Regions from separate parts of the Homo sapiens genome. Here region 1 is linked to region 2. Evidence: fine-mapped expression QTL. A gene starts in region 2. The other region holds a variant in brackets. All regions are shown on one strand. Distances are between the middles of the regions. Region 1 overlaps AXIN1 (axin 1). Region 2 holds the start of PGAP6 (post-GPI attachment to proteins 6).

Region 1 (5,205 bases), 44 kb after region 2:
GAAGAAGAAGAAGAAGAAAAAGAAAGGGCCCAAAATGTGTACAGAGTTGTCTGTGGAGGAGTGGTTTTGGGTTTCCATGTCCGTTGGACCTCAGGCGGTGGTGCTGTTGAAGGTGCCCGGCTGCAGAGGGGCTGTGTTGCAAGGGTGAACTCTGCTTCCTGTGCAAAGGGTGTGGCCCAGGGTGGGGTCGCCCCCAGGCTTGTCTTGTTAAGGGGACCTCTGCTGTGGTGCAGAGGGGGCAGAGGTGCTTGTGAGCCATACTGCCCCTTGCGTGGGCTCCCCTTGCCTGGGTGTGGGGGGTTTCTAGTCTCCTTTGGGGTATTTGCTTCCCCTGTTTGAGCAGATCTGAAGAGAATTTTTTTTTTTTTTTAGACAGTCTTGCTCTGTCACACAGGTTGGAGTGCAGTGGCACCATCTCGGCTTACTGCAGCCTCCGCCTCCCAGGTTGAAGCAGTTCTCCTGCCCCAACCTCCCCAGTAGCTGGGATTATAGGCACCTGCCGCCATGCCTGGCTAATTTTTTTTTTTTTTTTTTTTTTGAGATGGAGTCTCGCTCTATCGCCAAGGCTGGAGTGCAGTGGCACAATCTTGGCTCACTGCAAGCTCCACCTCCTGGGTTCAAGCACTTCTCCTGCCTCAGCCTCCTCAGCAGCTGGGACTACAGGCGCGTGTCACCACGCCCGGCTAATTTTTTTTTTTTTTGTATTTTTAGTAGAGACGGGGTTTCACCTTGTTAGCCAGGATGGTCTCGATCTCCTGACCTTGTGATCCGCCTACCTCAGCCTCCCAAAGTGCTGGGATTACAGGTGTGAGCCACCACGCCCGGCCTTTTTTTTTTTTTTTTTTTTTTTTTGAGACCAGGCTGGCTGGTTTTGAACTCCTGACCTCAAGTGATCTGCCCGTCTCGGCCTCCCAAAGTGCAGGGGTTGCAGGTGTGAACCACCACACCCTGCCCAAAGGGAAATTTTTTTTGTTTGTGGATGTCCAAGGAAAACTTTAAAAATGATTCCTGGCCAGGCACGGTGGCTCATGCCTGTAATCCCAGACTCTGCTGGACTCTGCTGGTGCTCTGCTGGACTCTGTCCCCACAGCACCAGCTTGCATCCCACTTTTTTTTTTTTTCCCCAAGATGGAGTTTCGCTCTTGTCACCCAGGCTGGAGTGCAATGGCGCGATCTCAGCTCACTGCAACCTCTGCCTCTCAGGTTCAAGTGATTCTCTAGTCTCAGCCTCCCGAGTAGCTGGGATTACAGGTGCATGCCCCCACTCCTGGCTACTTTATGTATTTTTAGTAGAGACAAGGTTTCGCCATGTTGGCCAGGCTGGTCTCGAAATCTTGACCTTAAGTGGTCCGCCCACCTTGGCCTCCCAAAGTGCTGGAATTATAGGCGTGAGCCACTGTGCCCAGTCCATCTTGTATTTTTATGCACCTGTCAGTGGGCAAGGACTCCAAACATATTTTTTCTCTTCCTTAGCCACGTAAAGCTCCATAGTCTCAGACAGGTTTCAGCAGAGTCCACGAAAGTATCTGTAGTTGCCTGTCAGGCCAAAGGATTCTGGAACCGAGAGGCCCCTTTGCCTGGGCGGACCTCAGTCCTGAGCTGTGTGGGTGGGTTGTGAAAGGGAAGCACTTTGCAGACAGCCAGTGGCAGACGTGCCGATGAGACTGTGTGCCTGGCCCTGGTGCTGGTGCTGACCTGCAGCAGCTGTTTCTGGAGGGCTTGGGGTAAGTGTCCCTGCGGGCCCCTGTGGCCCTTCTTGGAACTGTGCCCTAGCCGTGACTGGCCGCCTGGCACCCCAGCCCATTCTCACATTTTGCGCCAGTGTCACAGATTTGAATTGACGCACACGCTCCGGTTCTGCTCATCCTTGTCAAACGCAGACGTCATTTGTAGCAGCGTACCCTGCAGTTATCGGAGGTGGGGGCCAGGCTGGGCTATGGTGGCTGTCAGGGAGAGAGGGCCGCCTGTTGGCTCTTTCTTGGGCCCCTCCGCTGCCTACTTGTGCGTGTGGAGGGAAGCAGCTTCACCTCAGTTTTTCCCCGTGTCACATCTGTGAGAATAACCACTCAGGGTTCTCTCAGAACCCATTAGCTCCAGAAGGTGTTCGGTCTCTCCACTCCCTGAGAGATGGAGACTGGTCACAGGGCTCTGTGAAAACACACACAGCTCTGCCATACTGCTGTGGCGTCCAGGGGGCCCCCAGAGGCCGCACGCCCGGCTGAGTGCCCATAGGGCCCAGATTCCATGCCCCTTCTCCTCCAGCAAGGACCCTGGGCCCTGTCCGGAGTTGAACGCTGGCTTGTGTGGATTGCAGCCTCGGCCCACGGGCTTCCTTTGTGATCCGTTGAAGCATCTGCTGGCAAATGGGCTCAGCTCTTGGCTCAGCTGGCTAGGTGGCCAGGTGGCCGGGTAGCTGGGCGTCCGGGTGTCCTGGCAGGCGCTGTCCTCACTGTGAGCTGCA[G/A]TGGGCTGCTTGGTCCTGTGCCCTGCTCATGGCACTCACCCTCCTGCCTCCTTTGAGGTTGCTCCAGTGCTTTTTTTTTTTTTTTTTTTTGGTTTTGACCCACTCTGGATCTTTACTAGCTCACCTGTAGTCTATGGGATTGGTGTCTGCTCCTAAACAAACATTTAAAATAACCCTAAGGAGTGCTGCTTGTAATATTCCAGCAAATAGGATGACTTGAATGCCCAGTGGCATTCATACAGTTGGATATGTGGGCTTTTAATTTTTTTCTTTGTTTTTCTGTATTTTCCAAATTCCTATAACAGCATGTTTATAATTAGAAAGTATATTATTAAAAGAATAAAAGCTTTAAAATATGCAGCTATTCAAAAGCACATTTTTTCTTTAAAAAGGATACACGTAAATGTGTCTTTTTTTTTTTTTTTTTTTTTTTTTTTTGAGACGGGGTCTTGCTCTGTCACCCAGGCTGGAGTGCAGTGGTGTGATCTCAGCTCACTGCAACCTCTCCCTCCCAGGCTCAAGAGCTCCTCCTCCCTCAGCCTCCCCAGTATCTGGGATTACAGGCGCCTGCCACCATGCCCGGCTAATTTTTTTGTGTTTTTAGTAGAGACGGGGTTTCACCGTGTTAGCCATCATGGTCTCCATCTCCTGACGTTGTGATCCACCAGCCTCGGCCTTCCAAAGTGCTGGGATTACAGGCGTGAGCCACTGTGCCTGGCCCACACCTGGTTAAGTTCTTGTATTTATGTTTTGTTTTTTTTTTTTTTTTTTGAGGCGGAGTCTTGCTCTGTTGCCCAGACTGGAGTGCAGTGGTGCAACCTCAGCTCACTGCAACCTCCGCCTCCTGGGTTCAAATGATTCTCCTGCCTCAGCTTCCTGAGTAGCTGGGATTACAGACATGCGCCACCACACCTGGCTAATTTTTGTATTTTTAGTAGAGATGAGGTTCCACCATATTGGCCAGACTGGTCTTGGACTGACCTCGTGATCTGCCCGCATTGGCCTCCCAAAGTGCTGGGATTACAGGTGTGAGGCACCGCGCCCAGCTGGTGTCTGTTCTTTTAGGGAACCAGCCCTCTTGGGTCAGGGCCCCACGTTTGCGTTCTCATCTAACAATAACACTTCCTTACTTCAAGCACAGCCACGTGATGGTCAGGGCTGACACATATTAATTGGGCGACACGGTTCGGTCCTTAGTGCCTTTTCTGAGTAACGTGCTCACTGCTATCTTGTGTCCACTGGCTCTTTGAGAGCTCTGCTGCTCTCCTGTCTCACCCCTACCCTGAGGTGTTCATGCACCAGGGCATGGTGCTTTCACTTCTGAGCCAAGTGGGTCAATCATTTTCTTTTTTGAGACGGAGTTTTGCTCTTGTATCCCAGGCTGGAGTGCAATGGCACCATCTTGGCTTACTGCAACCTCCGCCTCCTGGGTTCAAGAAATTCTTCTGCCTCGGCCTCCCGAGTAGCTGGGATTACAGGCGTGCATCACCACACCCAGCTAATTTTTGTATTTTTAGCAGAGACCAGGTTTTACCATGTTGGCCAGGCTGGTCTCGAACTCCTGACCTCAAGTGATCCCCCTGCCTTGGCCTCCCAAAGTGCTAGGATTATAGGCGTGAGCCACCACGCCTGGCCATTTTCTTTCCTGTACAATTTTGTGTGTTTGTTTTTGAGTTAATAATGGCCGTTTTTTTCATTTGATTAAATATTTTACTTTCCAACTTAAATCTTCCCATATTCTTCAGCTCAATAGAGTGCTTGTGAATATTCTTCTCCTCACTGTAAAACCTCTTGGATAAAGTATTTTTTCTCTGGAAGACATGTGTCCTGAAGTCTTCCATATTCCCACTCTGGTTGAAACAGTTACTCTTTAGGCATCCTGTGGTACTGGGTGCCTTGGAGCTGGTGTGTGTGGTACTGGCATGCTGTGTAACTGGGCGCAGTGGTACTGGGTGCTGTTATTGGGTGCCATGGTACTGGGTGTTGTGTTATTGGGTGCCATGGTACTGGGTGCTGTGTTATTGGCATGCAGTGGTACTGGGTGCTATGTTATTGGTGTGCCGTGGTACTGGGTGCTGTGTTATTGGCGTGCTGTGGTACTGAGTGCTATGTTATTGGTGTGCTGTGGTACTGGGTGCTGTGTAATTAGTGTGCCGTGGTACTGGGTGCTGTGTAATTAGCGTGCCATGATACTGGGTGCTGCATTATTGGCATGCTGTGGTACTGTGTGCTGTGTTATTAGTGTGTCCTGGTACAGACTAGTGGCCGAGGTGTGCCTGTGTGGAGATCTGAGGGTGACGTAAGTAGAGGCACTGGCGTGAGGGCCCCTCATGCAGTGTCAGGCTTGCACCTTTGCTTGGAAATTCCATTAGCTTTGGAATTTATAGCTTCGTGGTGCAGTGTGGAGTTATGTTGGAGATACCACAAAGATAAAGCATTTCCATGGTGAACAAAAAAGTTTACAAATAAAAGCAGTCCAGGCCGTTTTTATTTTGGCTTTGTTATGTGTCCACTTACTGCTGTGCATTCTATACGCCAATGGGAGTGTTTTGTAGATTCTCATGAGTTGGTTGCGTTTGGTTCATTTGGGTAAAGTGAAACTCCTTTTAAAAGAAGCAGAAAAAAATTAAATATCTCATAAAAATAAAGATTTTCTATTTCTGCCTCAGAGTGTTTCTCTCTAGTGAGTGGTGTGTAATTAGTGTGCCATGGTACTGGGTGCTGTGTAATTAGCGTGTCATGGT
Region 2 (5,205 bases):
TGACTCACTCAGGGGAGGGCAGTGGGAGGAGGGGGGCTTGGGCCCAGCCTGGAGCAGGGACTGGGTCTGGAGCAGTCCTGGGTGCTGGTGCTGACCTTGGTTGCTGGGTGCAGTCCGGCACAGCACACTCAAATCACGGCTCAGCAAAATCTGCAATCTGACCTCCGTGCCTTTAAAATGAGAACCCCTGGGAGCCCCCCTTTCCCCTCAGTCGGGGCTGAGGACGGCCCAGCTGGGATTCCCGGGAAACAAAGGGTCTCTTTAAGGCTCAGCCGGGGCTTCCTTCCTCCCCGGCCAACACCCTCCACCTCCGCTGCTCTGGCCTTCAGGGGTCTGGGCTCGTGGAGTCAGCTTCCCCTCCCCCGCTCCGTAAACCCTCACCACCCGCTGCGGCGTTCAAAAGGTACAAACAGGTATGGTCCCTGCGGCCATCCCCATCCCCACCCCGCCTCTCCTCCTCCAAGGTCAACCAGTGTAGCCGGTGCTGGATCATTCCAGACATTCGATGCCTTTGACACACACAAAGGAAACGTGTTTTTCTCCCTTTTCTACACAAATGGTAGAGCTTTGAACACACCGTTCTTCCTGTTCCTTTCTTGCAGCTACTGCTGCACCTGGTGGACCATTTCCAAGCAGCACAGCGCTTCCTGTCTTTCCTGTCTCGGCCACGCTCTGTCTCGTTTAGACCCCGTATGAATGATTTGAATGTCCCACCGGCCAGTGACACGCATGTAGGCGGTGCCACATTGACTCACTGGACGCATGCAGTGTGCCACTTCCGTGAACGTACCTGGAGGGAAAAACGCAGAGGTGGAATTCCCGAGGGAAGGTCATTGCTGCTGTTACTTCAGTGGACAAGTCGGGGGGGTTCCCACGAGGCTCCCACATCCTCTGCCTGCTGCAAGCAGTGTCTGTGGGCCACAGTCTCACCTGTTAGTACAGTTTTTATTTGCCAATGTGTTAGGTGAAAGGAAAAAGAAGTCACTTTAATGGGGTTTTCCTTTAATTTTTTTTTTTTTTAAACTTTTTACCCTCACATCCTGGGAAGGACACTTTAGTGTTTTGTTTTTTGTTTTTGTTTTTGTTTTTGTGTTTTTGTTTTTTGAGACGGAGTCTCGCTCTGTCGCCCAGGCTGGAGTGCGGTGGCGCGATCTCGGCTCACTGCAACCTCCGCTTCCCGGGTTCAGGCGATTCTCTGGCCTCAGCCTCCGGAGTAGCTGGAGTAGTTTTTAATTTGCATTTCTGCGCTGAGGGAGGAGGATCAGCGTATCCCTGGCAGCTGTCCTTCAGTATTTTCTAGGGGAGCGTTTCTGTGATTGATTTAGAGCTGTTTATTACTGCACTGTTACTAGTCTTATTAAGGTGAGCTCTGCGGTGTGAGCTGCAAGCTGTGTCCCCCACCTCCCAGTCGGGGGCTCGTCTTTTGGACTTCGCTTATGCAGTTTGGCTTTGCAGACGCCCCCACCCCCCTCCCACCCACGACGCGGCGGAACTTCTGGACTCTGTGCCACGCTTGGAAAAGCCGACTTGGCCCTAAGACGGAAAAAGCTTCCCCGAGTTTTCTAGGCTTTATCGCTTCCTTTTTTCGGCTCAAATCTTACATGGTGGGAATCCATCCAGGTGCAAAGCGCCGGGAGTTGATGCCACGCACCCGTGTGAACCGCCACCCCGATCGGGTACTACAGTCCCTAAACACAAGCAGCCTTCTCGTCTGTGCATAAAAGCGTGGATCTGACACGCACCTGCAGCGGCTCTGCGGCGTGAAGGCCGGCCCGGGGGTCCCCGTGCTGAGGCGCCTGACTCAGGCCCACGCGCGCCGGGCGGGGCAGGGCAGGGCGCGGGTTCCTCTCGGTCCCAGGCGGAGGTCGGCGCCTCTGCCCCCCGCGGGCTCCCCGAGCCTGCCACGGAGGTCCCGGCCGAGCGGAGCTGGGACTCAGCGAACCGGCGGGGAAGCCCCGCGGAGCCCACGCCTCGGGGAGAATTTCCTGCGTGTTCCGAGCGCGCCCGGCGCGACCTCTCCGTCCTGGGACCCCCGCGATCCCTCCATCCCGCGCCCTCCCTCCAGCGTCCCCCCGGACCGCGCGCGCCCCGGTCCGTCCCCCGCGCGCCCCACGTGACCCCTCCCCCCTACCGGCGCCCCACGTGACCCCTCCCCCCGGCGTCCGCGCCCCCCCCGGTCCCGCCCCCCGACCCCGCCCTCGCCTTCCCGGCTCGGCCTGCGGGGCGGGGCCTGCGGGCGGAAGTGCCCGGGGCGACGGCGGCGGGGACCGGCCGGGCCATGGGCGCCGGGGGCAGAGGCGGAGGCGGCAGAGGCGGAGGCGGCAGAGGCTGCCCGGGCGGCGGCGGGGGCCGGCGGCGCGGGACGCGGGCCGGGTAGCGCCGGGCCGAGCGCGGAGCCATGGGCCGGGCTGGCACCGGGACCGGGGGCGAGGCGGTGGCCGCGGTGGTGGCGGGGCCGCTGCTGCTGCTGCTGCTTGCCCGGCCCCCGCCTGCCTCCGCCGGCTACAGCGGGAAGAGCGGTGAGCGGGAGGCGCGGGCGCCATCGGGGGCGTGGGGCCGGGGCTGCGGGCGGGGCGGGATTGTGACACCCCGGGCGCACCTGTGCGCTCATCTGGCGCCGGCGCGGGGTTGGGGGTCCCCGCCGCGGGTTGGGGGTGCACAGTGGCCCTTTGGGGCGCTTCGTGTCCTAGGGGTCGAGGCGGACGGGACCCCGCGCTTCCTCCTCGGTCCCCCGATCGGGGTTGGGCCACATCGGCCCCTGGAGCGCCCCCTCCCCTCCCTCCTCCTCCCAGAGCGCCCAGGTCCGGCGCGCCCGGCGCGGGGAAGTGGAGGGGCCCAGGGGACTCTGCCCGGGACTCCAGCTGGGAGGAGTGGCTGGGCCGTGAGCTCACCGGCCGGGTCCGGCCTGAGAGAGGGGCAGAGCCGGGAGAAAGTTGTTAGACCCTGTAGCGGGGGCCCGTGGGCGTCATGGCTCCAGCCCTTCCGCAGTGACCCCCAGCCCTGGTACGGCCGCTTCCTGCCGCCGGCCCGGCTTCTGGGAGGAGGGACTCCCAGCTGGCGGAAGAGGGGCTGAGGAAAGGGCGCCCCTCTCCCCTCTTGTTGGGAAACTCGCCGGGCTCCCTTTGCATTTCTGTTCCCTGAGGGTCCCCGTCCCTGACTGAGGTCCAAGGAGGCGGCTGGACCAGGGAGAAGGCGTAGCCCTTCCACGGGGTAGGGACGTGGGTGTGGAGACCGTCAGGCCTTGGCCACCCTGAGATGGTGAGGACTTGCCCCGGCCTCTGTGGCCTGGGACTCTGGAGGGGCCGTGTCCTTTCTGGCCGGCTGGAAGTTCCCACACGTCCCCAGCCACGCGGGTGCCCAGGTGCCCGGCAGCTGATGCGGTGCTGTTCCCCGACTTCCCGGCCCCCAGCCCCTCCCCTCCCCTGCCCCTGAAATAATGCTCCTTTGAGCTCCTGTTTCTTTCGGGGGCTGTGCCTCCTGCTTTCTGAGCTTGGCACAGGTAGAGATGAAAGGCAGTTTTCCCCGAGGACCGTGCCCCGGATTAAATTGCTCCATGGCCAGGCGCGAAGCTCACGCCTGCAATCCCGCACTTTGGGAGGCTGAGGCGGGTGGATCACCTGAGGTCAGGAGTTCGAGACCAGCCTGACCAACATGGAGAAACCCCCTTCTCTACTAAGAATACAAAATTAGCCGGCAGTGGTGGCGCATGCCTGTAATCCCAGCCACTCGGGAGGCTGAGGCAGGAGAATCGCTTGAACCCGGGAGGCAGAGGTTGCGGTGAGCCGAAGTCGCTCCATTGCACTCCAGCCTGGACAACAGAGCGAGACTCCATCTCAAAAAAAAAAAAGAAAGACAGAAAGAAAAAAAAATAACCTGGGTGTGGTAATGTAAGCCTGCGGTTCCAGTTACATAGGAAGCTGAGGCTGCGGTGAGCCGTGTTCATGGCACTGCACTCTAGCCTGGGTGACAGAGTGAGACCCTCAGAAATACCAAAACCTTACTCCGTTGGAAACTGGCAAAGGAAATTCTCCTGTCCCAGAACTCAGGCCTGGTGAGGGGTTCCTGGGAGATGGAACCCCTGTGTGTGGACAGTGGAGAGGCCTGGTGTGCTGGCTCAGCCCCTCACTCCTCCCAGCCTGCCGAGGAGTAAGTGCTCTGTGGCGTTGTGGGTGGTCAGGGTCTCCCATGGGTGCCTGTCCCGGTTTGGAGGACGTGGGTCTGGGGTCTTCACTCAGGTTCCCAGGACAGGGCCAGGGACTTGCATTACCACCTTCCCCACCCAGCCCTGTGTCCGTGGAGGGGCTGTGGGGCAGGCAGGGGGCTGTGTAGCTGGCCCTCCTCACCCTGTGGTCACCTCGGCTCAGAGCACCCCTAACAGCCTGGTATGTGTGGGCAACTTGGGCAGGGAGCTTGGGCTGCAGAGCCCTGGGAGAGGCCTGGAGGGGCTGTGAGCCCTGGGAGTCGGGGACTGGGTGTTAGGACAACCTTGAACAGATCTCTTATCTCTGTGTACCTGCTGAAACTTCACAGCCACCAGCTGGGTTCTAGGTGCCCTCAGGCTGGCGCTCCAGGGCCAGAGGGGCTGAGGGCTTTGCCCCAGCAGCCCAGGGGCTGTGTGTGCTGCAGGTGGCCTCCCCTGCCTGCCCCCGCAGAGGCCGGCTTTCTCCGGGACACCGTGGTCCTGGGGGGCTGTCCTGCTTCAGCTCCCAGCACTTGAGCTTTCTCTGCCCACATTATCAGGCCACAGCCTGGTGGGTGGGACCTGGTGGCCAGCAGACACCTGGAAAGCCTGGAGTGCGTCGTGGGTGGAGCCTGGCCAGCCCCTGCCCAGTCGCCACGCCAGGTTCCCCTGGAGCTTGGCCTGGATTTGCCGACAGGCTGCTATTGGCAGGTGTATCGTTTCTTCTGGTGCCTCTATGGGAGGGTCACGAGGCTGGCAGGAGAGCCTGCTGCTCACCTGTCTCCCTCCTCAGGAGGGGCCTGGGCCTGAGCCAGCCACTCTCCAGTGAGACCTAGGCAGCGCTCCTGAGTGTGTGGGGAGGGGGAGCTGCAGCAGAGGGGAGGGTCCCGCCCCCTGCTGTGTCCACTGTGCTTTTCCTTCTGAAGCCTTTGTCGTTAATTAACCTCGGAGGGAGGGGCCCCCAAAGGGATGTGCCCTCCGCCCTGACCTACCCAGGAGAAGGCTGGGACCCAGGGAGGGAAGGA

Evidence for each region. PIP is the estimated chance that this variant, and not a neighbour inherited with it, causes the effect. A credible set is the group of variants that fine-mapping cannot tell apart.
Region 1: its variant is the best candidate, but not a certain one, in a credible set for the expression of PGAP6 in whole blood (TOPMed, PIP 0.72).

What each region holds. Positions count from the first base shown.
Region 1 is chr16:334,844-340,048 of GRCh38, reverse strand. All of the region lies in intron 2 of AXIN1 (axin 1), which reads left to right. Among named protein-coding and RNA genes, the nearest start is that of AXIN1, 15 kb to the left of the region's middle. RefSeq lists enhancers at 1-591, 3,526-3,820. The variant G/A (reference allele first, on the strand shown) is at 2,462.
Region 2 is chr16:379,015-384,219 of GRCh38, reverse strand. It overlaps PGAP6 (post-GPI attachment to proteins 6), which reads left to right and starts at 2,242. Exons shown (of 13, transcript NM_021259.3): 1 at 2,242-2,519. The coding sequence starts at 2,399. It overlaps LOC100134368 (a long non-coding RNA gene), which reads right to left and starts at 1,979. Exons shown (of 3, transcript NR_024453.2): 1 at 1,743-1,979; 2 at 791-930. RefSeq lists silencers at 1,776-2,125, 2,146-2,375, 2,416-2,565, 2,696-2,815 and an enhancer at 2,250-3,149.